Homo sapiens: one gene and its partners. The protein of the gene in region 2 purifies or fractionates together with the protein of the main gene of each other region. This does not show direct contact. Each region holds a gene or a part of one and is shown on either strand. Other genes may lie near its edges. The genes, in order: ZZEF1, CCNG1, PPP2R5E and PPP2R5C.

Region 1 (7,888 bases), on a different chromosome or scaffold from region 2:
AAAGTATAACAATTGTGTACGTTAAGAATTCTACATTTTATAAACTGCTCAAATTTTAATAACTGTGATCATTTAAATTCTGGCTGAAATTAAGGCTTTTGTAAAAATAACACAGGGGTCATATTTCCAGTTCCTCCTTTTTTCAAAATGCCCTGGCAAATTCTAAGAGAATAAGCATCTTTTTCGGGTCCTGACAGAATGCTTCTCATAGCTGGCCATTCAAGTTTACAACTAGCCAATGAAATCACATTCAGGAGTGACAGGTGTGGGGCTTGTGAGACAAATTTGGAAAGTGTGAGAGACAAGTACCTGCTTTGATTTTAACCAAGATCAGTGACATCATGGCACCCACAGCCATGGAGTGTCCCTGGCAGGCAGATGGTGTGAACGCAAAGCCCAGAGCACACACCTGTCTGGAACCGCCCCAGGTGTCCGGCCGTCACGGTGAATCTGTAGCCCCACTCGGTGTTGCTCATGTCGGAGGTGAAGCGGTAATACAGAGTGTCTCCTAGGCACACAAGGATCAGAGGCCCATCAGGAACTGAAGCAACAGGGAATGGCAGCAGTGGTGTTGGGTTTCAACATTCTCCAGTAAGTTCCCTTCTCAATATTAAGTTTAAACACTGCCTGTGAAGAACCTATCTAATCGAGTATTTGTTTCACTACCTGGAAGTTCAAAATCTTTCCACTTCTGCTGAGACCCGCTGAAGCTGTGTCGGTCTTGCTGGAAGTCACTGCTGCTGGACATGGCTAACTCGTCACAGCCCTCCTCTGTGTTGCACTGAGAGTCGAATTTGATTGAGAGGTAGATGGCACCAGGAATGTGAACTTTATCCTAGGGAGGGGAAATGGAGAACACATCTGTCGATGCTGCTCACTAGACACTGACTGCAGCTGTCCCATGCCGAGTCCTGTGGCTGGACCCGGGTGTGTGAGAATGAGTGAACCACAGCCCTGGCCTCCAGGAGTGCAGAGTCCAGCTAGGGCGAGGAGCATGCACAGACTGCAAATATGGTGCGAGGGAGGCACAGCGGGGCAGGCAACACGGGGCCCCAGAGAAAGAGTGTCAGGCTGCTGTGAAGAGTGAAGAGGACAGGAGGACCCTGTTAGGAGAAGGCGGGAGTGGGAGACAAGGTGGACCTGAGTGCATGGGGTGCATTTCAGACAGGGTAACAGCCCTGTGAAGGTCTAGCATGTTCAGGGAATGGCAAGGAGCTTGGCGTGTTTGGAGTAAAGGGTGTGCTACATGGGCACGTATGCTTGGGAAGCAGGAACAGGGACAAGACCTGACTCCAGAGAGACTGGCAGGGGCAGACACTGAAGGCCCTGGGCATGAAAATGAGGCACTCAGACTCTGGACAACAGGGAAAACCCTGGAAAGCTTTGGTGAGGCTTGCACAGTGTAGCATCACTGACAGCTGGTGTGGAGCAAGGCTGGGCTGAGGCAAAAGTGAGGAAATCAGAAAGTAGCAGCAAAAGGAACCCCAGAGAAGGGCAACGGGTGTCCAGGGTCAGTGGAGAAGACAAGACCTCTTTGGGATCGAACCTGGTGGCTGACCACATGTGCCTGTATGGGACCAAGGGAGTGGGGCTGGAGCCCAGGAACATGACAAGAGAAGAGACTTGGAAGAAAGACAGGTTATACTTCTGAAAAACAAAATCTCAGCTGGCCAATAACCCAGTTCTAAATCGGTTTTCATCATCCACCTTCGCTGCTGCAGGTGCCTTCCACTCAGAAGTAGATGCCTGGGCAACTCCAACATTTCAGTTTTCTCTCCAACATTTTTAAAAGCGCTAATGGGGGCCAGGTGAGGTGGCTCACGCCTGTAATCCCAGCACTCTGGGAGGCCAAGGCGGGTGGATCACCTGAGGTCAGGAGTTAGAGACCAGCCTGGCCAATATGGTGAAACCCCGTCTCTACTAAAAATACAAAAATTAGCTGGGCATGGTGGCAGGTGCCTTTATTCCTGCTACTAGGGAGGCTGAGGCATGAGAATCACTTGAATTCGGGAGGTGGAGGTTGCAGTGAGCCGAGATCACACCACTGCACTGCAGCCTGGGCGACAGAGTGAGACTCCGTCTCAAAAAAAAGTGCTAAAGGGACTACATGGCCTTAAGTCAATGAGAATAACGGAGGCTGCCCCATTCCTGCCTCATCAAAATGCCTACCTCCCTGCCCAGGCACAAAGTTAAGGATGGAAAAGATGAGACTCTGATTCAGTTCTGGGAAATTTTAAAAAGGGGCTGTAGTATCCACGGTGGGGGCAGGTCATGAGGTGGCAGCTGAAGAGTGAGGGTCCAACCTGGACCACATTCAGACTCACTGTCTCACTGTGAAGCCAAGGACTCACTCTGAGGAGCCTGCCGCAGGGAAAGTAAAGCTCTCCTCCAGGGCTAGGTGGCCCATTTTCTTCTATTAAAACAAGAAAAGTCCGGAGAAGAGAAGACTTGCTTGTACAGAATCCCTGGCCTCAGGGAGGCAGACTGCAGTTTGTTCAAGGAAGCACTTTCCTGGACAGGTCTCTGCTGTCCAGCGGGAGAGAGCCACAGAGGGGCTGAGCATGGAGGGGCTGAGCACGGAGGGGCTGACGAGGTCTCTGCGGCTCAGTCGCTCTTATGGGGCCTGCCGGCCCCAGGCTTACCTCGAAGTTGGTGTTGTTGTTATACGGGTGTTTCGACTCCCTCACTTGCACCTCCATTCCTGGCTCCTCCATGAACTGGCATGCAGCCAGGGCCATGGTCCCCAGCATGTCCTCTCGGCAGCCCTGGAGCACTTTCTGCAGGATCTGGTGGGAAGCAGACAGATAAGGTCAGGGCCTGCAAGTGGCATCAGGAAGAAGGGACAGTTTACTTCAACCCAAGCTCCACCCAAAGGTGCTGGCATCATCTTAGACCTAGGACGAGCCTCTGTGACTCCACCACCCAAAACCAACTCCACCAGCCACCTCTCACTTGACCAGGCTCTTGGTGTCAATCAGGACACTGCAGTCCTTTCAGAATGATGCTACTTAGAGGTGGTCTGAAAGAACTAACTGAACCAATCATAAAGGGTCCTGGTCCTTGAAGGAGTCCCCAGCCAAGCAGGTGGATTGGCCTATGGATAAATAATGACCACACAATGTAATCGATGCCTGGAGTGAGGTGCAGGGTTGGGAGCTCTAGGTGGCAAGAACTGTGGGAGGACACGCCTATGCAAGGGCCTAGTAGAGGCAGGGTGGCTCCCTCTGTCCCTTCCGAAAGATAGATATGCTAGAGCAAGCCTGCCAGCACCTGCAGGGCTGCAAGGCCGGGAAAAGACCTCGAGGTCTGGTGGTGTTCTCAGATGGACAAAGCAAGGCTGAGAGGCCAAATGAACTTCCTCATGGACTGCGTGTGTGTGTGTGAAGGTGGGTGAGGGACAGGATCAAAAAGGAGCTACCGAATGTGCCTCAAGATTTCTGCACTTGGAAACTGGGAAGATGGCGACAAAGCTTTCTGGTTCAGCTGGAAATCGCGCTCAGGGCCCCTGAGTTCCTCACTAGCCCAATCCTTGGGAGAGGATACAGTGACCCTACCTTTGCTGCATTCACACCTGTCAGGGAGCTGCACAGCCACACAGGTAGCCTCGCTCCAGGAAGCACTCACTGGAGGAAGCCTGTGGGGCAGAGGAAGAACCTGGTGGGTGAGCACAAGCTCAGTCTGCATAACTACCTTCTCCCACTCATGCTTTTCTTCCAGCTGCATGAACATATCCAAAATGTAGGTCATATGGGCAGGGCCACTGAGCTCCAGGATGTCCTCGCTCACTGGCACGTGGCTAGGCCACTCGGCGAGCAGGGATGCAAGCACGTGGCGGGCGTACAGGACAGCTGTGGCCTCGTTCACTCGGAAGAGGTAGTCCCGGACAGCCCTCTTACTCTTGCAGTTCAGCTCCTTGTGCAGGAGGGCGGCGCTCTTGCTACGGCGCTGCTTGGCATAGCTCTGCTGCAGTTCGCTCTCTGTGCTGGAGATCAGCTTCTGGGTCACAGGGTTCGATTCAGCAGTGGCTTGGTCACAGCGTGCAGGCCGGGACTGCAAACCCAAGACCACCATTACAGAGGTCTAGCCTTCTTACAGTGGTGGTATGGGGTGGGGGATGGGGTGCAGATACTTTGGGTCCGAGGTCGGGTGACATACCAAGCATGGCAGGATAATCATGTCTGTATCCACAGCTTTGGCGCTCTGTTCTTCCAGCCTCAGACTCTTACTGGGCTGCCACCGCTGAGCCAGGGACCGTATCCTTTCATCTGTGGTGAGCTCATCACCATCAAACCTGCAGAAGGGCAGCACAAAGTTGAGTACCAACAGTGTAGACAGGCCAGTTTTAACCTGCACTTAAACTTGTTGGCAATGTTCTTCAGAGTTGTTCTTCTGTTAGTATCAATGACATTATCATATTCCGTGTTTTGCCAACTGGATTCACAGCCTTCACTTATGCATGGATACAGAATGCATGTATGCTCTGTGGCAGGAGATGCAAACTCTCCTGCAAAATCCATTCTCCTTTTCTATCTTTTCCATTTTTAAAATTAATTTAAATGTTTTATTTTCATTAAAAAAACATTTTTAAAAAAAATTTATTTGTTTTTTTTAGAGATGACGTGTTGGAGCTATGTTGCCCGGGCCGGCCTGGAACTCCTGGGCTCAAGCGATCCTCCTGCCTGCCTCAGCCTCCCTAGTAGCTGCGATTACAGGCTCATACCACCATGCCTGGACTCCCCTTCTCTCCTTTTTTTTTTAAATTTAACAGAGTTTAAATGAGCAAAGAGTGATCCCCGAATTGGGCAGCTCCTGAATCAGAATGGGTTCAGAGTGACTCCACTGCTGTGGTTGGAGGTTTACGAACAGAAAAAGGAAACTGACACACAGAAAACAGAAGTGAGGTACAGAAACAGCTGGAATGGTTACAGCCTGGTGTTTGCCTTATTTGAACGCAGTCTGAACAGGTGGACGACTCTGGCCGAAACTCGGTGGCCCTTCTCTCTCTCTAAAGCTCCCTGAGTTTTAGCAAGAGCCACAGTCACCCAGCTAGAGACATGGTTAGCAGCTAGATGTGCTGATGCCCCTGGGTTCTGGGCAGTGCAGGTGAGCGAGGTGGTGTGCCACCTCTGGAGTCTACTGGACTAATGGTGCACTCCCTTCTCCACCTCCCCTCTTTCCTCTGGGCTAGAACCGAGAGGTGGGGTGGCCGAGGGAGCTTTCACTCCACAAATGAGAACGCTGGGATTGCTGGGTCCCTCTGTGGAGCAGAGCTGTCACCCACCCCAGACTCTGCCTACCTCTGGACTGTTATGTGAGAGAAAAACAAATTCTATCTGCCCTGATCCATTATATTTCTGGTTTCTTAGTTACCGCAGCTTAGACTGTACCCTAACTAATGCAACCCTGCTTCACCTCATAAAGGCTTTTAGGCAATATATAAGAAACTAATAAAAGAGAAACACGAAACACAAAATAAAAGAAAAATTAAATGAGAATTTACAATGAGTAAGAAGTCAAAATTAGGATACGGGGGATGGAGGAGACTGGATTGCAGATATGTAAAGTTCTACGCAAATTAAAAAGTTGGGCCCAAAAACTAGCTCTGAACTTCCTGGCCAAGAGAAAGGGAATGTTCTTAATTTTAAAAATATCTTGAGCAGAAGTTCCTGCTCTGTGCTGTCTGCTCCCTGGGATTACACATGAGAGACATCTTGGTGCCTGCCCAATTTCTGTGTCTGTAAAATGAGTTTCCTCTCAGAGGCCGACTACAAACATAAGTTTTAAAGAGGAACCACAGTGCACTTTGAAGATGATCCAGGTAACGTAGCACAGGCCACCTCCCACCTCGCCTTACAAAGGACTAGCAACTGCTTCCCGGCCTGTCGGAGCGTCGATCGATCCAGAAGCTGCTGCCAGGAGGCGCACACCCTCCCGCCCTCACATATTCTCTCCCTGGCCACACTTCAGCTGCACGGAAATGTCCCTTACCTCTTCTGAACCTCCAGGAAGAAATAATCGGTCTTTTTCATCTGCAGTTCGTATATGGCCCGGAGAATGTGCAGAGGGGCATTGAGGGCATCATGAGCCATCTGGAGGCCAGGGGAGGACGCAGACAAGAACCATTAACAGTGCTTCAATACGGTATTGATCAACTGAACTCAAAACTGAGAAGACAATATAGCAAAAGCTGCCACAGGTTATAATTGAGGAACATTATATGGGTAGTTTAAAAAGCATATAAAATTGTAAGCACCAAAACATGGACTATAACACCTACACTACGACTGTAACTTCAAAGGAAATTATAAAACACTAAAACCCCAAAGAAATATCCTGTCAACAAAATACAATGCTGACAGTAGATACTTACCACATCGTATTCACGGCTAGCGTCTCTATAACTGTTTTACACTCAAGTTTGACAACTAGCGCATACATAGGCACTGTATTTTCTTTTGATTTTTTTTGACACAGGGTCTCACTTGGTTGCCCAGGCTGGAGTGCAGTGGTGTGATCATAGCTCATACCACTGAGTACCCAAAAGCGTAGAAAGGCAAGAGGAGTTTTAACCTGCACTTAAACTTGTCAGCAATGTTGATCAAAGTAGTTTTTCTGTTAGTATCAATGACATCATCATTTTCTGTATTTTGCCAACTGGATTCATAGCTTTTACTTATTCATGGATACAGAATTGCATGTATGCTCTGTGCCAGGGGATGCAAACTCTCCTGCAAAATCTGTAAACTTGAACTCCTGGCCTCAAGTGATCCTCCTGCCTCAGCCTCCTGGGTAGCCAGGACTACAGGCGCATGCCACACCTGGCTAGTCTTATTTTTTGTAGAGGCAGGGTCTTGCTAAGTTACCCAGGGTGGTCTTGAACTCCTGGCCTCAAGTGATCCTCCTGCCTCAGCCTCCCAAAGTGCTGGGATTACTAGTGTGAGCCACTGTGCCTGGCTGGGATTTGCTTTTTCTGACATTCTACGCTACATTCTGTTTACTCTTCATTTAGTCACAACTTCTGAAGTCCAAGCCCTCATCCTTTTCATATTGTTCTGAGGAAGAATAGATTACCTAGTAAAGGTAAGAGTGTATTTCTGAGAAACTATGAGGAAGGAACTATCGTATAGAGTTCATGGACGAGCCTTAGGGCTTTAGTAAGCCCTTGAAATTCGTGCAAAATTTTACATACATGTTTGAATGTGTATTTTATGGGGAGAGAGGACCTAAAGCTTTTGAGTTTATAACCCAAAATATTAAGAACTATTGTTGTGGGGCTTTTCTGTTCTTCTGGATCAATTCTGCACAACATAAGACTGAGTCTTTAGGAAGTGAATTCTCAGGACAGCAGACAGAAGCATTTTCATGTTTAGGCTAAAACATGGCCCGGGCCAAAGAGAAGCCATCCCTCAGAAGCCCCTCCTAAGCCACAAGATGACTCAAGAACACACCAAGAAACATATTCTGGTGGGCTCATCCAGGCCCTCAAGGGGGTCCAGCTTTTTCTGCTCTGGGTCGCCAGGGCTGCTGACTGGCCGTTCCACCTCTTCCTCTCGGTCCCCTCGCTCATCCAGCTCTAGGTCTCCGTGCTCAGCCAAAGCGTTGATCTCCTTTTTTGAGGAGTACAGCATGATGGACAAAATCTACACAGAAAGAAAATCCAGCTGAATGTGAGCACTCAGTGGGCGGGAAGATGGTACAGTCCTTTAATCATGAAAATATTGGGCCTAACTTTTTAAGACATCAGAATCTACCTGAAGAATGTGAAATTAGAAAAGAAACACGAATGTATGTTTAATTACACTTTGTGACCGAAGAAATACTAACTGAACACTATGGGAACCTTTGTGTTTATTCACTTCCCCACAGATGGTATCAACTGCTATCGTCC
Region 2 (8,025 bases):
CAATCTTTTCCATTCTCATCAAGTCTGAAACCGTAAACCTATATTGACTTATTCGGATCAAGTCAGTTGCCAATGGGACATTCCTTTCCTCTTCTATTGATTTTACAGCCAAATAAAAGCAGCTCAGTCCAACACACCCAAGGTGCTTGGGCTGTACCTAAAAAATCAAAAACAAAACCAGTAAGCCCATGACTCTACCTTATTTCAATTAAAACATAAAGGATAATCTAGAACTCCGACCCAACATTTTGAAAATGTATATTTGAGGTTTATTTCTCAGCTGTGATGGACTTAACACAATCCACTCATACCTAAACTATAGCCTGTCAACACTATGGACCCCACTTAGAACCAATTTTTGAGTAACTGGACTGAGTTTCAGTATAATGTTTGGCTCAGCATAGAAAAAGTGTGTTTTTATTAATCACTGTAGAACTATAAGTAAACATTGTTCTAGTTTGATCAAATAAGTTAACTAGTCAAAGATATATGAGGACTGAAATACTTTATGGCTTATTTACAAAATAAGCCATTTCTTTGCAGGATGTTGTATTTTTTCCAGGCTCTTGTCTTTGTGGGAACACATATAAAACAGTTTTAAAATACTATGGCATATACTGTTTACTCTGCCTCTAAGAGTTCTATCCACTACTAATCTTTATCATTTAATTTTCTGAATGTCTGCCGTATGAGACACAGTCAAAACTTTATCCAGTTTACTTCCAGCTCACATGAAACTAAGCTTTTACCAGTATTAATATCTCTGTGCTCTCTCTCTTCTTGTAAACTCTTCAGCAGTACACTTATGCCTCTTTAAAGGCATAATGTAGTTATTTTTCTTATTATGACTTGTACATAAGAGCAACGATCTTATTCTCACATAAGACTGAATTATACCTGAGGAATAGCTGTATATTATTCATTTGTGCAACATTTACAGATTCAAAGGTAATGACTACATGTGAAATGTCTAAAGAGCTTAATTAGTCTGTTGAAGCAAATTTCTTGAATCTTCAACAAATATTGAAGTCCTTTTTTATGATGCACTGTGTTAGATACCGAGGACTAAAATATGAGTTTCCTTCCAATTGTCACATCATCTTATTTTCCTCCAGTGACCATGGGTGTACAGGAAAGGCAGATGCATTTGTAACAGTTAAGCTCTGAAAGTGACAGTCTTGTTTATCTAGTATAGGAAAATAGTTGCTCCTCCTTCAGACACACTCTCCTCCCTACTGCATGTACACTGAAGCTGGAAATGCCAAGCATAAGCAAGTCTTGACTAGGTCTAAGGCTAAAACATTTACAATTTTATATATGGGTAGTGATTAACAAATATATCTTAATTCTTAGCCACAATGTAGCCTCTAATAAATTTCTGCCACTAATAAATTTGTTTATATCTAAAAATAGTAAATAAATGGACAAATCCAACCTATCAAGAAGGGTTTTTTAAAAACAGCCAATTTTCTTACTAGGAAACTGCAATTTGTTACTTGATATTAGACTATTTTTCATTTCAGAATTTAAGTCTAATACCTGATGTACTACTCTTGATTATGATAAGAAATATTAATGCTGTAGTAGACAAAATTAATGTTTTGGCTACGTGCTGAAAAAAAAAAGGTCAAGTTTATGAATACCAGCCAAAAGGTAACAATTCCATCTCCAAAACACACTGAGCAAAATTACAAAAATGTAGCTTCAAACATACCTTCATTTTAGACAGGAATCTGTCCAGTAAATTCACAGCTAGAGAAAATGTCTCTGTGTCAAAGCCAAAGAACTGAGTTAGACTAAGAAGATCTTTTACTTCAAAGTCCCTTAGTCTTGCAGTCATTCTGAGGCCATTATCGTGTGCAGACTCAATTAGTCTCAAACCACAGACCTTTGGCTGACATCTAGACTCCTGTTCCAACAGGGCATTCAGCTGGTGTAGCAGTTTCTGAGAGTCAGTTGTTGTCAGTACCTCTATCATCTATATATAGAAAAAAAGACCAGCAAGGAGTGTAAGAGTAGTCCTTCCTGCTTTCCTTGGCCATCTTTGCACTGGGCCAAGAAATGATTTATAAGCCTCCCATCCCCCAATGCGGCTAGTGCATCTAAGTCATTGCAAAGTGCCATCTGTTATTTATTTCCCTTCTACAAGTTGGTCACATCCTAAATTGAGTTCCTAGAGGGAAGGAACCATGCTTTTTTTTTTTTTTTTTGAGAAGGAGTCTCGCTCTGTTGCCAGGCTGGAGTACAGTGGCACGATCTTGGCTCACTGCAACCTCCGACTCCCTGGTTCAAGCGATTCTCCTGCCTCAGCCTCCCGAGGAGCTGGGATTACAGGCATGCGCCACCGCGCCCAGCTAATTTTTATATTTTTAGTAGAGACGGGGTTTCACCATGTTGGCCAGGATGGTCTCGGTCTCCTGGCCTTGTGATCTGCCCGCCTCGGCCTTCCAAAGTGCCGGGATTACAGGCGTGAGCCACCGCGCCCGGTCGGAACCATGCTTTTTAGAAAAATAAAATGCAAATCTTCAAGAAATACTTGTTCAAGTTATTCACTGTCAATAGATAACCACGAATAAACACCGTAAGACAGGATACCGAAAGTGAAAAGCAGATGGTAGTTAAGTATTCTGCCACATATTAACAAAATGAACTGTTCAAGTTACTTAATTGTACTTAGTTCCACATTGATAAAGTAGGGATAAGGTTTATGACCTACCTCACAGATTTGTGAGTTAAAATGAAATCACGTAAAGAGCTTAGCACATACAGTAGACGCTTAAAAAACACTGAACAATAATAATGAGCTTGAGCTTCTTTCTAGATTTATAAAATGAGGGTAACAATATCTGTCGCTGAATGTGAAGACTGAACAAGATGATTCACCACTTAAAGAGTATAGCACAGTGCTTGGCACACAATACTCAATATTACTTAACTTTTATTGTTGTTAGGAAAGGAAACTTAAAAGGTGACATTAGGAGCACGTATTGGGGCGGGGGGGTGCGGTGGGTTGTTGCTAACCTAGTCTGAAAGATGAACCTGGGAATTCCATTGATTTAAGTGTGCATAACACAACCATGTCCCGGGCACAAGCTAAGCCCTGGATACATGGAAGGTCCCTCCCACACCAACTAAAGACAGGAAGGCAGGAGGTCTTCAGAGCTAGTCATGTGAGGAACCTCTAACTGCAGGGGTTCCATTCTTCCTCCCCAGGCTAGTCCCTGGGACTGGGTCGGCAGACACGAAAGGCACCTCAGGAGGCCGGATCCGGCTCCGCCCCTCCAGCCTCGGACTAGCCTGGGCTTGTGCTCACAACAGCGGTAGAGTTTAGTGTGGAAAAGGGCGCGGGCCAGACCTACTCCTCGCCCCGCGCCCCCAACCCAGCTCCCCACCCGCACCTGGCGGTCAACTCCCGCGCAGTCCCACTCACCTTGACAGAGACTGCAGCTCCTCAGCGGTAACCACCCTCCCCGGGCCTGCTCACCTCACCCCACGATATCAGATCCGAGAGGCCTACGAGGAGAGGGGACTCGTAGGCAAGAGGAGAGAGGCCCGGGGAGGGGGACTGTCCTGGGTGGAGGCCTCGGCAGCGCCGCCGAGACAACTCGGCCCTGATCAGGGTCAGCTCGGAGCCGAAGGGGCCGCGCCTGCCCTAACGAGGAATATATTGGAGGGCGGGGCTTTCTCGCGAGAAGGGGGCATTTTCGCCGCTGATTGGTGTAATTCTTTTGATGGATGGCCTCCGCGATCCGTAAACGGCTGGGCCGTGGAGTGAGAAGTCCGGCCAATCGGCTCACACTTCCCGTTATCTGGCCTCAAATTCCCCGGCCCCCTTCCACGCCCCTACCTCTAAGCGTCTCTCATTGGAGAATTTAACAAAGTGTCTTCATTCAGTAGGGGGCCAAACTAAATACTCGGTGCAGCAACCCTCGCCTGGGTCAGGTCAATCGGCTGCCAGCCGGATTGGCCGGCGTATCATTCCAGAATGTACTGTTTGTTCTGTGGGGTTTAGGAGTTCTACAGTGGTTCTGCCCCATCTTTCTAAAAATACAGTGAGTAGTTAAAAAAAAAAAAGTCAACCTTTGATTTTTAATTACAGATAAAGAGGTGGTGGAATTTATATGGTTTGGTGGTTTATCAACTTCCAGAGTGCTCTCTTCGTGAACTTTGGAAGTCAGTTGATTCTTGCCTTAGTTTGCTTTTTATACAATTTATCAAATAATGGAGTTGGACTGTGTAATTTCTTGACCCTCTACCAATTTTCTGAATTTGCTTTTAAAGCAAATTTAAAGAGAAAAGTTGGTACAATTTTTCAGTTGCTTAAAATGAAAGGTATGTGGCAGACTGTTAACAGGAATAATTGTGGTGAGTGTGAATCTCAGTCTACAGACCCGAGTGTAAAGCAGTATTACTCTTTGTATTTACCATAATGAATTTAATCTCTGTGAGCCTCTCCTATGCCAGATTAGTGGGAAAATAATTAGCCTGAACTCTTCTTAGACTCTCCTCACTCTCACTCTCCCAGATCATCACAAGTGAGAAAAGTCCATTTGTAAAAGGGCCTGAAAAAGGGTGCACAAGGAGTCATTTCTAAACTCTTATGAATTACACAGTAGTTGGATGTCTCTGTTCTCATGGCCCCAGTTCGGTCTCTCTTACTTTGAAAAAGTGAAAATCTGAAAGATTTGCCGTCACTCTGCTATTTGCCCTGCCGTGTACTTACCCAAGGCAATGCCACAGAACAAAACTCTGGAAAGGGGGAAAAGGGGTGGGGAGGAAGGGGAAGGAAAAACAGGAGAAAACATCAATACCTCACAATAATACCTTAGCCACATAATCAGGTCAGTTTAAGAAACTGGGGCTCAAATGGGGAAGAGGCCTTTGTTCCTTTTGAAAATAAAAGCTTACCTAGTGAATATAAATTGGCAATTTATAACCTTTAACAAGTGATTTTATTTAAAAATACTTTTTGCTGTAATGTGTGAGTTTATAAATGTAGTTTCTCCTTTTGGCTTTTAGTTCCTATTATTCCTAATTCCTAAAATTAGGAATGTATATGCACAATTTTTAAAAAAAATGGCTAAAAAATCATAAAATCTTTATGGCAGGCTGGGCGCGGTGGCCCACACCTATAATCCCAGCACTTTGGGAGGCAGAGGCGGGTGGATTACCTGAGGTCAGGAGTTTGAGACCAACCTGGCCAACATGGTGAAACCCCGTCTCTACTGAAAATACAAAAATTAGCTGGGCATGGTGGCACGTGCCTGTAATCCCAGCTACTCGGGAGGCTGAGGCAGGAGAATCGCTTGAACCTGGGAGGTAGAGGTTGCAGTGAGCCGAGATGGTGCCACTGCACTCCAGCCTGGGCAACAGAGCAAGACTTGGTCTAAAAAAAAAAAAATTCTTTATAGCAATCAAAAGCACGAATAAATTAACTAATATTTATTGAACACATAGCATAGGCCAGTGGAGAACAAATTAGACTGGTACCCGTCCTTGTAGAACATGTAACCTGTGGGCAATATAAACACATAGACTTTAGAATAAAATAAACTTATATTCATATCCAGGAATAGCTCATAACTTGTTATGTGACTTTCAGCAAGTTATTTAATCACATTTTCTTTTCTCAACAATGAGAAGTAAAAAATACATTATTCATGGGGTTATGAAGAGGATTAAATAATAGAAAGTGCATAAAGAGGTAGTCACTATTCCCAGATCACAGTAGATTTCTTGATAAATGGTAGCCCTTAGTATTAAATTACTATTTCTTTTTAAATATCTTGCTTAAACACACTTTGATGTGTTTTCTCTGTTATCAGACTAGTCTTCTGTTTTCAGCCTAGAAGGATAATCAGAGTATTAGAACTGTTTATTTAACACAGATAAAAATATCTAAATTGCATGTATTAATTTCTATACGTTTTTATACTTGAAATTTTCACTTGAGGGCTTTTAGGTAATATATCATTGTTTATATAATACAGTATTTTCTCGTACATTAGAATATTTTTACTTTTTATTAAAATCTCTCACATAAAAATATTTCACTAGTACTGGAGAGACATTAATTAAATATAAATCAAGTCAAATTGAAATTCTTTACTTTTCTTCCTCCCTTAACCCCCTCTGCCATTTTCATTTCAAAATGTTAGAATATAGACCATCATTTAAATAATTGAAAAGACCTAATTAGCAAAATGTGGAAATGTAATACTCAGTTATCCACTCTTGTAAAATAAAGATAATGAGCCCTTCGTTAACTATGATTTTATTTTTAAAGAAGTGTGGATTTAATCATGAATTCCTATTGAAAATTTGTTAAATGACTGACTTCTGGGGGTATATTCTAGGCTCAATGATGTATTCAATTCCTATCCTCATACCTTCTTCTCCATTAACAGTTAAGTACAACAAGAACTAATGGTCAGAATAATGGCCTTGAGGCTGGGCAAGAATCCAGGCAGTAACGGGAAGATGTAATCATATTCTCCGCATGGTAGGCTGTAGACATGCCTTTCAACAACAAAGATTATAACAAGCAGGTATAAAACAGTGGTGGTGTGTCAAATACTGCCCTGACTCACAGGGAAATTCCCGGTTGGCTTTGTTTGTTTCCATCTTGGAGATGTGGGAGTCTGTGCCTTCCCTCCTGCACACAATGTCCAATCACCTTACCCTCTTTTCAGGCTCCCTAATAAATGTCTGGTACTTTTGTGTGTAGCCTTGTCCAACTATGATAAGGGCCAAGGAAGTGAGGGTCAAAAAGATCTCAGCTGAGTTCCCTTCTGCTTTCTGATCCTTCCTGTAACTGTGCATTACAGCCTCCTCCACTTCTCTAGCTGTTCTCTAGTGCATCTAGTCTATCTTATTCATTTGAAGTTAACTTGCTTGTCAGTGGCTCCTTTAATTCTTTATTAGTTTATGGGACACCAGTGAAATTAAGTATGGTTGGGAGGAGAAAGACAGAGAAGGATACATAAAAAACATAGATTAACAATTCCATGAATATCCTTCTACTCAGAGGTTCTAGCTACCACTTCTATACTCAGATAAAGTAACCCCTTCCAATTAATTGAGGTTTTACTATATATTTCATGAAAAACTAAATTTTTGACTCATCAAGTAACCACTGCTATATAAAGGCACTGGGTCACATTAGAGGGGGATCCTCTGTTCTCTAATGGCTTTAGACTCTGTTGAGTACAAAGCTTAAAGCCAAGACCAGCCAAAAACGTACTATATAGGGTTTGCATTTATTATATGTTTCCCATGTGCCAGGTCATCGTGCTGAACTTAAACACACCTGCCTTTGACAACTCTGATATTTTTATTCTCTTCAGAAATGTGGGATATTTTATATATCTCATGTTTAGTAACTGTTTACTATTTACTAAATATACTTCACACAAAACTTGAATTTGGATTTTTCTGCAGTTTTTTAAAAAGTTTCTATTTCAGAACATTTAAGTCTCATTACCCAGCTTCAATAATCAACATTTTGCCCATGTTGACTGTTTACTTTGTTTGTCTATCAACAAGTATTTCTTGAGAACTTTGTAAGTGCCAGACCATTGTATTTTGTAATCCCAGATAAAAAATGCTGCTACAGCTTTTGAGCCACAGGATGTGTTGGCTGCTGTTCTCTGTGAACGTAAGACGTCAGAAGGATCAGCTGGGTCATTGTCCTCCAGTCAGAAGCCAACACTGCAGGTGTCTCTGTTGTCTCCTGCTTTGGAAGGAGAAGGAATGGGAAGGCAAGAACAATTTCCTTTCTTATCCAGGTTTCTGCCTAGGTTGCTAACCTTCCTCCCCCAAAAGCAAACACACACACACACCCAAACACACACACACACACACACACACACACACACACCCCATGTACACAAAACGTTTTGGCGGAGTTGAGAATTGGACTTAAGGCCTTCCTTGTTTCACGTTACTACCTTCCTTATCTTTCTAGCCTTTTAACTCTTTTATCCCCCTCTCTGATTTTGCCAACCCTTTTCTCTTTTCTCTCCC
Region 3 (7,888 bases), on a different chromosome or scaffold from region 2:
CCTCTACCTGGAATGCCCTTTCCTTCATCCTTCGAAGCCGAGCTTAAATGCCACTTGCCTATGTTACATTTCTTTCTTCTTTTTTTTTTTTTTGAGATGGAGTCTTGCTGTGTTGCCCAGGCTGCAGTGCAGTGGTACAGTCACAGTTCACTGCAGCATCTGCCTCCCGGGTTCAAGCGATTCTTGTGCCTCAGCCTCCCGAGTAGCTGGGACCACAGGCATGCCCCACCATGCCCAGCTAATTTTTATGTTTTTAGTAGAGATGGGGGTTTTACCATGTTGGCCAGACTGGTCTCGAACTCCTGACCTCAAATGATCCACCCACCTTGGCCTCCCAAAGTGCTGAGATTACAGGCATGAGCCACCACACCCAGCCCCACCTATGTTACATTTCTGCCACCCTTCTGTTTCCCAAGTCATCTGGATTGTTGATTCTGCTCTTTTCCCCTCCTTCCCCTGACACTTTATTCATATATCTGATATAGCATCTGTCACAGTTTACATTGGATAGGCTTGTAGATGCCCCTTCTCCCACCAGTGTGCGAACTCTTTAGGGATAACAGAGTAAAGAGGTTAAGAATAGAGACTTTGGAATCTGCCACTTACTAGCCATGTGACCTTGAGCCAATGGCTTCTCTGAGTCTCAGATTCTTCATCCACAAAATAGAAAAGTAATGGTACCAACTCTGTTGGTTGTGAGGAAATGAGATATTATATATGTGGGACACTTAGCACAGTGCCTGGCATATAGTGAACATGCAGTAATGATTGTTTTCTTTGTACTCTCAGGGTCTGGTGCCTAATGAGTCTCAGGGTTTTGTTTTGTTTTTTGAACCAAGCTGAATAATGTAAATGGAAAAATTCTGTTTTCTCAGTGTCTTTCGGTAGATACATCTTATACCATTTTGTTCTCTTCTAAAACAGGGCTTCTTAATCTGTATAAATGAAGGAAGCCACCCCTTTTTCCCTTTTCCCCTGTAACTACCCTTTTTAGAGATTTTAGGTTTTGTTTTTGAGATGTTCTTTTGAATTCATGAAATCCAAGATGAGCCAATCAGGCCCAGCAGACCAAATTAGAGCCAGTTGATAGCATGGTGGGCAGAGAAAAGGGATCTAAGAGAGCAGAGAGGGTAGGTGCAGCCAGTGTCCCTGAGACCAGAAACTGAGCAGACATCTCCTGGCTTGCACAGGAAGGGACCAGAAACAAACTCTGGAAGAAGCCCTAGAAATGAGGCCCCAGTCTTTACCATATTGTCAGTGTAACCTTGCCTACATTACTCAGTCTCCCTGAGTCTCTGTGTCCTCACCTGTAAAATGAGCACAATGGTATCTCCTTCTGGGATGGTGGTAAGGATGATACATTCTACTTGCTGTGTAGGCACAGTGCCTGCCCATAGGAGGTACTTAGTAAATATTGGCCGCTCTACAGGGATGAGCAACTGTGGGTGTTCCTCAGTAGCTGTGACTGAATGCTAACCATATGCTGGGCCCTGGGTTCGATCTAAGTGTGTGTGATGAAAAACATAAGAAAGGGGACCAGTGAGATGTGCTAAAGTGATGTCAGGAAAGTGTGGAATCAGATGACATGGGCAGAATTAGAGAAGAATATAAATTAACAGGAAAACTTCTTTTCCTTCCCTGAGTCGATGAACCACTTGAACCACTCTGGACTTTTTTTTTGGTGGGAGGAGAAGACACGGTCTTGCTCTGTCACCCAAGCTGGAGTTCAGTGGCATGATCTCCACTCACTGCAACCTCCGCCTCCCAGGCTCAAGCAGTCCTCCCACCTCAGCCTCCCAAGTAGGTGGGACTATAGGCACATGCCACCAATCCCGGCTAATTTTTGTGTTTTTGTAGAGGCGAGGTCTCCCCATGTTGCCCAGGCTGGTCTCAGACTCTTGGGCTCAAGTGATCTGCCTGCCTTGGCCTCCCAAAGTGCTGGGATTACAGGTGTGAGCCACCGTGCCTGGCCCACTTTGGAATTTTCCAAGAGATTAAAAATCCACAAACATTTAAAATGTGGGCCAGGCACGGTGGTTCACGCCTGTAATCCCAACACTTTTGGGAGGCTGAGGTGGGCGGATCACGAGGTCAGGAGATCGAGACCATCCTGGCCAATGTGGTGAAACCCCGCCTCTACTAAAAATACAAACATTAGCTAGGCATAGTGGCATGTGCCTGTAATCCCAGTTACTCGGGAGGCTGAGGCAGGAGAATCGCTTGAACCCGAGAGGCGGAGGTTGCAGAGAGCCGAGATCGCGCCACTAGCGAGACTCCCATCTCAAAAAATATATATATATTAAAATGTGATTAATATTTAATTTTACCTCTAATTGAATGATTTACAAATAGCCTTTTGAAATACTTTTGTTTGGAAAGATTTATAATTTTGTTTTATCTTTGTCTTTTTCTCTCTCTTAACATTTTATTTTTCTTTTCCCAAAGGTGGCAGAAAGAGCACTCTATTATTGGAATAATGAATACATCATGAGTTTGATAGAAGAAAACTCTAACGTCATCCTTCCCATCATGTTTTCCAGCCTTTATAGGATTTCAAAAGAACATTGGAATCCGTAGGTTTTCAGTTTCTTTCCTCCGTTCTCTTCCTCCCTTCCTCTCTTTCTTTCCCTTCAGCCTTATTATGTGCCAGATGCTGTCCTTGTTGCTGAAGACGTATGTGAAAAGATAAAATCCTTACCTTCTGGGGATTCACTGACTGGAGAAAATAAACAGATACTTTAACAAAATACCGGTTAAAGTATCTGTTTACTAGACAGGCTTCTTGATCTGTCTATGAAGGTAGCAGATCTTTTGGGGAGGCACTGCAGCTGAGAGGAGAGGTGTGTAGATACTGACAGCATGGCCATGCTTAGACTGAATCTGAAAGGAATTTGGCAGGTGGATGGCATGGGGAGAGCCCTTTCAGACAGTGGGTCCATCCATCATGTTAAAAGGCACAAAGATGTAAAAAGCAGCTGTCAGTTTCTGAGACCTGTGAGTTTGGGAGGGCTGAGGCACAAGGTCTTTTGGGGAGGGTGCTAGAGGATGTGGCTAGAAAAGACTGTGGGACTCGTGTGAGCCTTCACCAAGTAGATGATGAGGAAGTACTGAAGGGTTGTTAAGTGGGGAAGTGGTCTGACTAGGTTTTCATTTTAGTGTGATCTATTTAACAGCCAACTCAGTCGCTATATGTATCTCTTGGAAAGGAAGGAGTTTAAAATCATCAAGGGAAGTTTAACATCCAGCCCTATGAAAGTTAAAGCATTCTGAATTTGAATGCCTTTACATTTTTCTCTGTGGAATAGAAGGAAAATTTAATGTGGTATTTAAAAATTGGGAGATACAATTCAGTATATTCATAATATGTTTATCTTTAAAAATTTTGCATGTAATTATAAAATATCACATTTCTAATTTTTCAAATTTGCCTAATTATATTAATAGAACTTGTAAAAATAAGGAGCTGATAAACAGTTAAGTCCCTTTATACAGATAGTCTCTTGAGGACCTAGAGAACGGTTCTAGCAAGTGTCTGTAACTACTCAGTATACTACATTTGGTGCTTTCCCATCACTGCCCTTGGGAGGAAGGTCATTCTGGAACCTTAACAGAAAAGAACTTAAATTTTCCTTTTAATGGCACAAGGCAGAAGCTACACAGCAAGTGTACTTTCTTGTAAATGTTTTGGAAACATCAGACTCATGGTTTATTTAATATATGGCTAATTTTTACCAATGCATTTTTCAGTGGTATTAGGAGCATGTTTGTTGCAAAACGGAAGCAACGGATATTTTTGCAAAAGGAAAAGCTATTTAGACTCTAGTCTGAAGCTATCAAGCCCATCATAACCTTGTCCTCACATTGCCCAAGAGCTAATTCTTGTTAAGTATGGGCTACCATTTTGGCTGTTTAGCTGTATAGTGTCCCATAGCTAATAGCAACCATCCCAGCTTGCCAGTTATCAGCATATATTTTGGGTCAGCAGGACTGGTGCAGATCAGAGCTAGACAGATAATTCATATTGAACCACCCAACCTACATGAGGGCTTGATTTCATTTCTTTGGATAAGAATAATTTATATATATACACATATATATATAACATTTGTTTCTAGGGAAGTAGCTTCTGATTTTGATGAATTATGTGTTATTTAGAAAATAGAATTCTATGCAAATTCAGATGTCTAAGGTTAGTGCTATCACAGATCCTTATTTTAGGGTGAAATTGCTTTACTATTATACTTGCCTTTTTATTAAATGAAATTATCAAATGCCCACAGGCAGCTCTATTCTGGGTGCCAATAATTAGAAGGGCAGGCCAGGTGTGGTGGCTCACGCCTATAATCCCAGCACTTTGGGAGGCCGAGGCAGGCAGATCACCTGAGGTTGGGAGTTCGAGACCAGCCTGACCAACATGGAGAAACCTCGTCTCTACTAAAAATACAAAATTAGCCAGGTGTGGTGGCTCGCTTCTGTAATCCCAGCTACCCAGGAGACTGAGGCAGGAGAATTGCTTGAACCCAAGAGGCGGAGGTTGCGGTGAGCCAAGATGGTGCCATTGCACTCCAGCCTGGGCAACAAGAGCGAAACTCCGTTGCAAAAAAAAAAAAAAAGAAATTAGAAGGGCAAAGTTAGATTTTTTTTCTAGTTCTACCACCCCTCAGAAAATTATCTTGCCTTGAAATCTCTTGATGTGGAAATGAACTGTAGGTCATTTTCAGTTGTTCCAACTAAAAAAGGATACAGACAGTGTGCAGTACGAGAAATCATTCAGACAAAAGTTGTGCTTTTGCTTTCTTCATTCAGTATCCCATTTTATAAGACTAACTAACACACTCCTTTTTTTCTGTGCTTTCCAGGGCTATTGTGGCGTTGGTGTACAATGTGTTGAAGGCATTTATGGAAATGAACAGCACCATGTTTGACGAGCTGACAGCCACATACAAGTCAGATCGTCAGCGGTAACTTTTTAAAGCTTTTTTGTCAGCTGTGCATAAAGCTATTGAGTTTTTTCCTTGCTCTTTGCTGAAGTTGCCTAATTGTACCCCAAATCTTAAGCAGCACAATTTTGTTTACAGTCATGCATTACTTAACAACCAGTATATGTTCTGAGAAATGCATCCTTAGGCAATTGTATTGTGTGAACATCATAAGTATACAGTAATTACACAAACCTAGATGGTGTAGCCTACTATGACACACCTGAACTATGTAGTATTGCCTGTTCTTCCCAGGCTACAAACCTGTGGTGAATACCGTAGCCAATTGTAACACAAATCACTAGGCAGTAGGCCTTTTTCAACCCTGTTAAAATTTTATGGGACCACCGTGGTATATGTGGTCTGTGTTGACCGAAATGTTGTTATTTGGCACATGACTGTATTTATATATTCATTTTTGCACACTTATTAACTGTGTCTTTATTTATTTATTACTGTGCCACTGAGTAACAAAGCTTCCTGACACTCATTTTGATAAAGCCCGCTTTCTTTCCTTTCTTTAATAATATTTCACTTCTGCCTCAGGGTTAAGAGCCCAGCATTTAACTGGTATTTTAGGTTCACTTAAAGGGACCATCAGGTAGTTTGCTCTCTGGGATTCACTCCCACTCTGAACTTACTTGAAGTATAATTGGGCAGATCTTGTACTTCACTCCAATAGCAGGGGGAATGAGGCACCATTTATCTAGCTCTTGGGCCCAGGACTTACTAGAACCCAACAAATTTATTACAATTTAAAGATCAGTGAAAAGAACATGAAGGTTAATAGTCTGGTATTAACCAGAAATGTTTGAGACCATATGGGAGAACAAACCAGTGGAACTCTTTGCAATAAATGCTTATGGCTTAGTAAAAATCTTGTCCAATGCATTCTACTTTCCAAAAGATGTACTTGGGGAGATTATAGAAGTCTAGAGAGCTCTTAGTAGTTGCGCCTGTGGTTTGGCTTTGATCATCCATAAGCAGATGTCAGCTTTGTATATCATAAAGCTATGGACCTTAGAGGACCCAGAGATGTGTGCGAGTGTTCATACCCAGGGTCTTGCTGAACCTCTCTGGTTCCCTTGGTGCTTTGCTTTGTCTCATTTTTAGTCTGTCAACTTGCATTTTATTGATAAAAAGAGCAATGAGGGGAAAGGTTTGATGGCAGAGGGACCATTGCAATGATTTTTTTGTTTTAAGTTACCAGGGATGTGGTTTATGAAAACCAACTTAATTATGGAATGTGGTGAGTATTTAGCTGAGAATCTCAGAAGAGGCTGGGATTTTTTACCCAGAATATTGGGATTATTATCAATTATGGGATATGTTATTCCATACTCACAGTTTAAACAACTTTTTTTTTTTTGTTTTTTGAGATGGAGTCTTGCTCTGTTGCCCAGGCTGGAGTGCAGTGGCGCGATCTCAGCTCACTGCAAGCTCCGCCTCCCAGGTTCATGCCATTCTCCTGCCTCAGCCTCCTAAGTAGCTGGGACTACAAGCACCCGCCACCACGCCTGGCTAATTTTTTGTATTTTTACTAGAGACAGGGTTTCACTGTGCTAGTCAGGATGGTCTCGATCTCCTGACCTCATGATCCACCTGCCTCGGCCTCCCAAAGTGCTGGGATTACAGGCGTAAGCCACCGCGCCCAGCCCTAAACAACTTTTAATTCAGTATATTAGCGATTGTTGCAAATTATAAATTTATGATAACCCTCCTTGCCCCAAACTTAAAATCTTTAAAGGATGTTACTTAAAAAAACGGCCAAGGGTACATTTTAATACTGTGTTGCATCGTTAAAGGTGCTTTGTGCATAACATCTTCTCTGAAAGCACATTATTATTATCCTAGTTGAACCAGGATTAAATCCGTAGAATCTCATCAAGAATATTGAAGAACTTGGCTGGGCACGGTAGCTCACGCCTGTAATCCCATCACTTTGGGAGGCTGAGGCGGGCGGGTCATCTGAGGTCAGGAGTTCGAGACCATCCTGGCCGAATGGTGAAACCCTGTCTCTACTAAAAGTATGAAAATTAGCCAGGCACGGTGGCATGCGCTTGTGGTCCCAGCTACTAGGGAGACTGAGTTGGGAGGGTCAGTTGAACCCGGGAGGTGGAGGTTGCAGTGAGCTAAGATCATGCCACTGTACTCCAGCTTGGACATTGGAGTGAGACTCTGTCTCAAAAAAAAAAAAAAAAAAAAAAAAAAGAGAGAGAATATTGAAGAACAACTTATTTCCACTCAAATTATTTGGTTTGTATTTAGTGAACTTCAATAATAAAACTATTTTCTGGTTATTATCTAAACTAAATAGACTAAACCCTTGAAAAAGATGAGAATTAACTAAGGGGACCAGGAATAGATAAAACTATTATTTTATCTATTCCTGGTTGAGGTTGATTATGATATTCTGGCATATTACAGTTATTTATAATGAGTGTACTTTCTTAATGAGAAAATGGGGGCCAGGCGTAGTGGCTCACGCCTGTAATCGCAGCACTTTGGGAGGCCAAGGCAGGCGGATCACCTGAGGTTGGGAATTTGCGACCAGCCTGACCAACATGGAGAAACTCCATCTCTACTAAAAAATACAAAATTAGCCGGGCGTGGAGGCACATGCCTGTAATCCCAGCTACTCAGGAGGCTGAGGCAGGAGAATCACTTGAACCCGGGAAGGGGAGGTTGCCATGAGCAGAGATTGCATCATTGTACTCCAGCCTGGGCAACAAGAGGAATCCCAGCTCTTTGGGAGGCCGAGGCGGGCGGATCACGAGGTTAGGAGATCGAGACCATCCTGGCTAACATGGTGAAACCCCGTCTCTACTAAAACTACAAAAAATTAGCAGGGCGTGGTGGCGGGTGCCTGTAGTCCCAGCTACTCGGGAGGGTGAGGCAGGAGAATGGCG
Region 4 (7,888 bases), on a different chromosome or scaffold from region 2:
TCTAAATTCTTCAGCTTCTGGACTCTTGGACCTACACCAGTGGTTTGCCAGGGGCTCCTGGGCTTTCCGCCACAGACTGAAGGCTGCACTGTCCGTCTCCCTACTTTTGAGGTTTTGGGACTCGGCCTGCAGACAGCCTATTGTGGGTCTTCACCTTGTGATCGTGTGAGTCAACTCTCCTAATAAACTCCCCTTCATATATTCATCTATCCTATGCGTCCTGTCCTTCTAGAGAACCTTCACTAATACAGTTGGTCTGGATGGAACCAATTCATCCACATTTCCAGGAAACTTGACCTTTCAGTAGAAACAGGAACAATGGAGGGACCCAGGATGAGGCGCTGGGGAGCTTGGTGGCTCAGGAGGGAGCTGTGGGGAGAGGGGAGGAAGGCAGGGAGGATGAGCCCAGCAGCCCCCTGCACACAGTGCACAAGGGGGTCCACCTGCACATGACAAATAGGCTTTGAGAAACCCCCTCCACATGCTGAGTCCTGTCAGAGGAGACGATGGGGTAGGGGAGCATCGAGGGGGGAAATGAGCATCACCACACACAAGGACAACGCCATCCACACGTGACTTACCTATAAAATATATTATTTATCTGTTTTCTGATGTAAGCTCTCAAGCCTAGGAATTTCCCATAGATTCTGTGAAGGGTGGTTTTAAGAAAATCTCTCTCCCGAGGATCTTCACTGTCAAAGAGCTCTAAAAGCTTTGAGAAGAAAAAGACACTTAGTGGCTGGGTGTCATCATTCCATCAGGGCTTTCAGAGTGTCAGCTAATTTGTACCTTACCTGCAATACAAACTTCTGATCAATATATTTCTTCGCTATATTAGGTTGGAAATCTGGAGACTCTAAAAATCTTAAGAAAAATTCATAAACAAGCTAGGAGGAAAAAAAACAATGAGTCAAATAACATGAGATTTTATTGAATGGCGGTTAAAATATACCAGAAATTGAATCTTTATTGGTATGCAAATATTAGCCTCTCAAAGCCACATATCTACAGAATTAATGCTAAATTACATGGCTTAATTCAATGATAAATGGTGATGGTAATTATTTTATTTGGTGAAACCCACAGACTACACCCTTAAACGGCATTTAAACAAAATGATCTCCATGGCTGATGTCATCAGTTATAGTACACTGTTCAGGGACTACAGGGCACAGATGCCACAAACCAAGCCATGACCCAACTCTGCAGGGGGGATTTGCAGCCTGTCGCCTAGGAGTGTCCCACAATGCCAAGGCGCAGAGCCAACCAAATACACAGGAACTCTGGGGCTGCCAGGTAAGAGGGCCCTAAGATGTGGACCCAGAATCATGACCTCCTGGAGCTGGGACAATTCTTTCCCTGTGCAGACATGCTGGGTGGGACAGCGTGGGCCGCCTGTCACGGATGGATGGCCCTCCCACCCGCACACCTGGCCCCCGCTCTGCTCATGCCGACCCTGGCGCCTCCTTGCCAACCAACCTTCTGCCTTACAAATGCCCTGGGGAAAGGCAGTGGCCAGCGCAGGACCTGGGGGCCCAGCAGGCACCTATTAAATATGAGGAGCAAAAACTGGGAGATTGTTGGCTTAGGACCTCTGGGCCTGAATTCAATTCAACGGCCATCAACACAGCGGCCATCTTCACTGAGAACATACTCACAATTACACATCTTCACTGGCTGTTGTAAAGTGGTCAAACACACACATTAACTTTATTCTGCTGAAATATTTTTCTTGTACATATGGGTTTACGAGGCCCATGCTACTGAGGAGGAGAGGTCCATCTGGCCAGACCAGTGCGCCCGCTCTGTGGATCCCAGGCCATTCCCATGTGTCACCAGTGCCCTCCGAGTCTATCACCCAGAGCCCGATACCTGTAGATGAGGCCAGGCTGCTTCTAACGTTGGTTCATCTTCCTCCGGGTCAAATTCCGCTCCCGTAGGATTGGAGGAAGGTGGTAATGTTCGAAACATGTTAACTGCAAACTAAAATCCACATATTCTATAATTACAATCAGGGCATTTAAAATATTTACAGACAACATTTTATAAAGTCTTAGGTAATTCTAACAGTAGCCGCTTCCCATGGTAACTTAGCTCCTCCGTATCCTCAAAACGCAGAAGCTGTGTGGGTCCTCAGAGAGAGCCTGGATCAAAACTGCAGCAGGAAACATCACTTTGGACAGGTGCGCACGCAAGTTGACCACCAAAGTTACTTGGACTCTTGACTGTCAAACTTTGAATGACAACCAACACCAACAAAGGCTGATGGCACAGTGATGACTTCTGAGGTCTTATACTATCCAGTGGGTGCAAGACCAAGGAGAATGCTCAAAATGAGAGTAAGAAAGGGATGAGATGACGAAAGACGCAGCAGAGATTCACAGCTGAAAATGCTGGAAATGGCAAGGGCTGCGTCACGCAGGGAGGACCCGTGTGACAATGGCACCAACATCCTCTGCAATCCGCAACGATGAGGAAAGCAACAGTCAGAGTGGGACGACCTTTGAGTCGGCAGCTAAGATCATTTCCAGAGAAAGGACTGCTCAGGGGCACAGAGGATCGGTAGGGGCAGCATGGCTGTGCGCCCAGGCATGGGCTGTTAGATTTCTCTCAGTCTGTTTGGACTTGTATAACACATACTGACAGATCAGTGACATAAACAGAAAAGATTACTGTTTCCATGTCATACATTTATAACCTATTTTTATTTTGTACTAAATCTATGTATTTATTTATTTATTTTTGAGGTGACGTCTCCCTCTGCGGCCCAGGTTGGAGTGTAGTGGTGCGAACTCGACTCATCACAACCTCTGCCTCCCGGGTTCAAGTGATTCTTGTGCCTCAGCCTCCCGAGTAGCTAGAATTACAGGCGTGCACCACCATGCCTGGCTAATTTTTGTATTTTTAGTAGAGATGGGATTTCACCACGGTTTCACCATGTTGGCCAGGCCAGTCTCAAACTCCTGACCTCAAGTGATCCGCTCCCCTCAGCCTCCCAAAGTGCTGGGATTACAGGCGTGAGTCACCATGCCCAACCCTCTTTTATACTAAGTCTAAATATGATTGGTTACCTTATTGAATCTCTGAACGGATCGTATGCCAGTTATATAACTGGGTTCTGGTGAATGGCTCTTATAGGTGATCACAACCCCAGTCCCACCACTCTCAGAAGCACAAAATCAAAACCTTTGACATAAAAGATTAAAATCTGACTCTACGATAACAACGAGAAGATGTTTCTAGAGAGTCCAGGGCAAACTTGGCTGGCTTTAGATACCCAGTCTTGTAAAGACCAAGCTAATACTCAATGTCACCACTGCTGTTTCTTCCCTTTTCTTTTTTCCTCTTAAAGACAGGGCATCTCTCTGCTGCCCAGGCTGGAGTACAGTGGCCATCATCGCTCACTGCAGCCTCCAACTCCTGGGTTCACACGATCCTCCTGCCCCAGCCTCCCAAGTAGCTGGGACTACCAGCACGCACCACCATGCTCTGCTAATTTTATTTATTTTTTGCAGAGACAAGAACTCGCTACGTTGCCCATGCTGGTCTCAAACTCCTGGGCTTAAGCAATCCTCCTGCCTCGGCCTCCCAAAGTACTGGAATTAGAGGCGTGAGCCACCGCACCTGCCTGTTTCTTCCCTTCTTTACTGGTATTGATACTGAACTCCAAACCTTAATATCATTTTTCAGAAAGTCATCAGCTATAAAAGCTCTGAGCATCAAGCATCTGAGTATCAAGCATCTGAGCTTGTTCTCTGTGTCATCTGAGAGGGGAGCTGACGTAAAGACCAACTGTAATGGCCTTCACGGATACTGTAGAAACGCAGGGATGAAAAAAGGGGCTGAAAAGCCAGGAACAACTAATTAAAAAACACTTCTAGTAAAAGTATGAGTAATGTTCCTAAGACATAGGTACAAAGACAAAAGTTTGCAATCTAAAACCGAGAGTTAACCTGACTCTCACTGGTGTTATAATTTCTGGCAATGTCTACTCTCCAGGGACTGTCCCCTCCTCTGTGAAGCTAGTGTGTGTATAGGGCACTGCAAGGAGCCTCCCAAAGAACGGTGATTGACAGGTGGACGGCCCTGCCTCAGTTGCTGGCCCACAGGCACTCGGCGCAGACAGGGGTCTAGTCTGCCCCTCCTGGCACCCTGACCCCAAAGCCCACAGACGTGAACAAGCAGATGCTAAAAGCTCAACTATTAAGGAAAGGCCACACACACACACACTTTGGGCAGGCCGCCATGTCCTCCCAGGGTCCTGTCATTAGCAGCCACTGCTGAAGCTCTCCATAACTTCCAGGGCCATGAAGGGCAGAGAAAGGAAAGTCTGAATTGAGTCTTTAGCTCCTACGGGGAGTGTGGCATTCGTGAACTGGGGTTTCTACCCTCTCTCTCAAAGCCAAGAGACTGGGGTGAGGGTCCAGTCACCCACAGGACAGGGTCACCTTCAGGAAAGGGAGATGGCACTTTGTTCTTCGGTGGGTTAGAGCTGTGGGCCCGGCCTGGTGCCGACAGGGGCAGAGCACAGTGTGGGGAGGGCAGAGCCTGGGCACGAACTCTGGGTGGCAGAGGAATCTGTGAACAGGACTATGCCTGGCAGGAGACTCTGGGAACAGCCTGTGACATCAGGGCCTGAGGAACCATGGCGCCTGGAAGGAAAGCACGGTCACTGCTTCCGAGGTTTCTGGGGCTGCCCATCAGGGATACAGAGGCCAGAGCAGGAGCCGTAGGGCCACGCCGCCCAGGAAGCTGCCAAGGGAGAGAGGGGTCAGCTCACCCAGAGACGAGGCTGTAGGTCTTGGGGGAGAGGAAACAGCCGTCCCTCTGGAAGAGGCCTGCTGCCCAAGAGTCACAGACATGCCACAGAGGAAGAGACCACCATTCTGGCCGAGGCCACAGGGAGCAACTGAGCAGAACAGGCAGCTGCCCTTCCCCTCTGCTCTGGGTTCTGCTCAAAGCCCCGGGGGAGGGCGGGCAAGAGGGGCTCGGAGCCACCCTTGCTTCCCCTCCTCTCCCACAGCATGTCCCTCCCTGGCCAGGCTGCCTGGGGTGCGGCTTAGATGCCATTTGCAGAGGGTCTGAGATGAAAGCTTTAACCTAGATTGGATTTCTGTGACCAGGGATGACTAAGAAGTTAACCAACTTGCCTAAGATGTTATTTAGGCACAGGAAAGTGTGATTTCACCCATCGTGGTTAAAGGCGATAACTGAAAAAAAGTAAAATGTCCCCGACTGTGCCAGCTGGCCGTATGTGTCAACCCGGCTAGGCCACAGTGCCCAGCTGTCCAAACACTGCTGTGGGTGTTCCTGTGAAGGCATTTTATAGATGTGGTTAACACCTATAATCAATGGACTTCAAGTAGCGATCACTCTTGAGAATGTGGGGGCTTCAACCAGTCAGCTGAGAGGCCTGTGAGACCCAAACTGCAGCTTCTCTGAGGAGAGTCCACCTGCGGCCTGCAGTGTCCACCACGGCCAAGTCTCGTGCCCGCTGCCTGTCCACGGAGTCCAGACCTGCCCGCTGGACTCACCCACTGCAGAAGGCAAGTCCTTGAGATCTCAATCTCTGTCTCTCCTGCTGTTTCTCTGCACAGCCCTGACTGAGGCACCCAGTCAGCTGAGATTCCTAAGTAAACTGGTGGTTTCTACTAGCAGGAAAGCTAGTGATTAGGGTTTCCAGTTGAAGCTCTCCCGCACAGTGACAGTCAGCCCAGCAGCTAGGCCCCGTCTCAAACACCTGCACACTCACTGAATCCTTGATGCTGAGCTGAGGGCCTGCAAGGTGACTCAGATGGCTTGCTCTGAACACAATGTCCTCTTTTCAGTGTCTGTCATGGACTCAATGCTTGTGGCCTCCCTTCCTCACATTCATGTTAAAGACCTAAACCCTGGTGTGGCTGGATTTGGAGATGGGTCCTCAGAGAAAATAATGAAGGGTGAATGAAGTCATAAGTGGGGCCTTGGCCCTCCAGGATTAGTGTCTTTGTAAGGAGGGATGGTAGAAGGCTCACACTCGCCTTCTCTGCACTTGCTCGGAGCAAAGGCCATGGGAGGGCACAGTGGCCGTCTGCAAGCCAGAAAAGGCCCTCAGCAGGGAACAAACCCTGCTACACCCTTGAGTTTAGACTTTCCAGCCTCTAGAATGGAGAGAAGACACATTTCTGTGGTTTAAGCCACCAGCCTGTGGTATTTTCTTACGGCAGCCTGAGCAGACTGATACAGCGTCCTTGACTGATGACCGACCTAGGTCCGGGAAGGTTCATTCCAGGCCAATTCTGATTGATTGAAAGTCATTTCTCATGTGTAAGGAAAAAAACTTGCACTCCTAACTTCTACACACCTTTCTTACCACATTACATTGCATTAATTTAGTGCATATCTCTAGAAAAGGTTAAGTAAAAAGTAATACTGGGGCGGGGGGAAGGAACAGAGGGCCAACGGTCTATCACCTCAAATTCTTCTTGGGTTTCTGACCTAGCAACATTTCTTAACACAAAAGCTGCAGGGGCGAATCAGGGGCAGGAGCCCCAGGTACAGAAACCTGGGGTGCTGATGTCTGTGTGCAAATGTCACTGCCATGCTACCTGGATGCATGGATCCGGTCTGAGGAAACAGAGAAGACATCAACGTTATGCAGTGAACACCAAAGAAGCTCTGAGGTCTAAGGAGTCCCGGGTCTTCTGGGCAGCACACAGGGTCACTGTGATCTCTCAAATGAGACCTACGGATCCAGCGCACACCCAGAGGCACAGACGCAGAATCACGCTGCCCAACAAAGGCAGCACAGCCTCATGGAAACAGTCTCTCTACACCCTCTTCCCACCTAGAAGAAGGACCTCAGACCAAACAGCCTGCCTGAGCCTCAATTTTCTCCTCCATTGGAAAGGGTAAAGGCCAGGCGCGGTGACTCATGCCTGTAATCCCAGCACTTTGGGAGGCCGAGGCGGGTGGATCACTTGAGGTCAAGAGTTCAAGAGCAGCCTAGCCAACATGGTGAAACCCCATCTCCACTAAAAATACAAAACTTAGCTGGGTGTGGTGGTGGGTGCCTGTAATCCCAGCTACTCGGGAGGCTGAGGCAGGAGAATCACTTGAATCTGGGAGGTGGAAGTTGCAGTGAACCGAGATTGCACCACTGCACTCCAGCCTGGGCAATAGAGTGAGACTCCATCTCAAAAAAAAAAAAAAAAAAAAAAAAAAGCGTAAATCCTTTTTTTATTTTTTGCATTGGGCTGTGGTGAGAATCACAGAAAACACATGCAACAGCACTTACTAAATGGGAAAACATTATGCACGAACAGTTAGCATTACACAGCACTTCCCAAACGTTTCTGACTGTTTGACCTCCACATGAAAATAATGGCACGCACGTGAGTGCATACGTATGTCTGCATGTGATTCACACGGCCCCATCTGTGCCAGGACCGTCTCTGGTTAATATCAGGAAGCACCTGCTTCTGCTGCCTCCCTGACACTTCCACTTTCAGTACTTACATCAGTCCTGCAGATGTTCTCCAAATTGCTAAATTTATTAAATTAGATGTAAACTAGAATGGCCCAAGAAGCAACTTTACGGAAAATTCTTACAATTCAGCAATATCATGCAGCCTTTCTGTATGTGTTATCATTCATTACCAATGAGTGAATATTTATGCCGTAACATAACTGCAGCAGTGTAACATATAAAAATTTTAAGACATGAAGGGATACATTAAAAAAAAAAACCGCTGACAGTCTAACTTTAGAGGCAACAGGAAAGAAAGGTTTGATTATTTACAGTTCTCTGTTCAAAACCACAAGGGTTATTCTGTTATTTATTCTCTGTTTTATTCATGTCAACAGGATTTATAACAGATGAATCCATCAAAGGCCAAATTACAGTTAC

The links.
Region 1: the proteins of CCNG1 (region 2) and ZZEF1 purify together in Homo sapiens (affinity purification with mass spectrometry; 3 studies listed by BioGRID and IntAct, with this or other methods). This does not show direct contact.
Region 3: the proteins of CCNG1 (region 2) and PPP2R5E purify together in Homo sapiens (affinity purification with mass spectrometry; 3 studies listed by BioGRID and IntAct, with this or other methods). This does not show direct contact.
Region 4: the proteins of CCNG1 (region 2) and PPP2R5C purify together in Homo sapiens (affinity purification with mass spectrometry; 4 studies listed by BioGRID and IntAct, with this or other methods). This does not show direct contact.

Annotation. Positions count from the first base shown.
Region 1 is NC_000017.11:4,013,681-4,021,568, forward strand, and holds part of ZZEF1 (zinc finger ZZ-type and EF-hand domain-containing protein 1), read right to left. Parts: intron 7,641-7,888; coding exon 7,449-7,640; intron 6,090-7,448; coding exon 5,989-6,089; intron 4,292-5,988; coding exon 4,156-4,291; intron 4,051-4,155; coding exon 3,691-4,050; intron 3,095-3,690; exon of another isoform or gene 2,953-3,094; intron 2,787-2,952; coding exon 2,643-2,786; intron 836-2,642; coding exon 667-835; intron 509-666; coding exon 410-508; intron 1-409. UniProt on the Homo sapiens protein: Histone H3 reader which may act as a transcriptional coactivator for KLF6 and KLF9 transcription factors.
Region 2 is NC_000005.10:163,433,210-163,441,234, reverse strand, and holds the start of CCNG1 (cyclin-G1), read right to left. Parts: upstream 3,641-8,025; 5' UTR 3,431-3,640; intron 1,979-3,430; coding exon 1,715-1,978; intron 158-1,714; coding exon 1-157. UniProt on the Homo sapiens protein: May play a role in growth regulation. Is associated with G2/M phase arrest in response to DNA damage. May be an intermediate by which p53 mediates its role as an inhibitor of cellular proliferation.
Region 3 is NC_000014.9:63,379,129-63,387,016, reverse strand, and holds part of PPP2R5E (serine/threonine-protein phosphatase 2A 56 kDa regulatory subunit epsilon isoform), read left to right. Parts: intron 1-2,445; coding exon 2,446-2,573; intron 2,574-4,859; coding exon 4,860-4,961; intron 4,962-7,888. UniProt on the Homo sapiens protein: The B regulatory subunit might modulate substrate selectivity and catalytic activity, and might also direct the localization of the catalytic enzyme to a particular subcellular compartment.
Region 4 is NC_000014.9:101,876,256-101,884,143, reverse strand, and holds part of PPP2R5C (serine/threonine-protein phosphatase 2A 56 kDa regulatory subunit gamma isoform), read right to left. Parts: intron 1,984-7,888; coding exon 1,873-1,983; intron 888-1,872; coding exon 795-887; intron 713-794; coding exon 582-712; intron 1-581.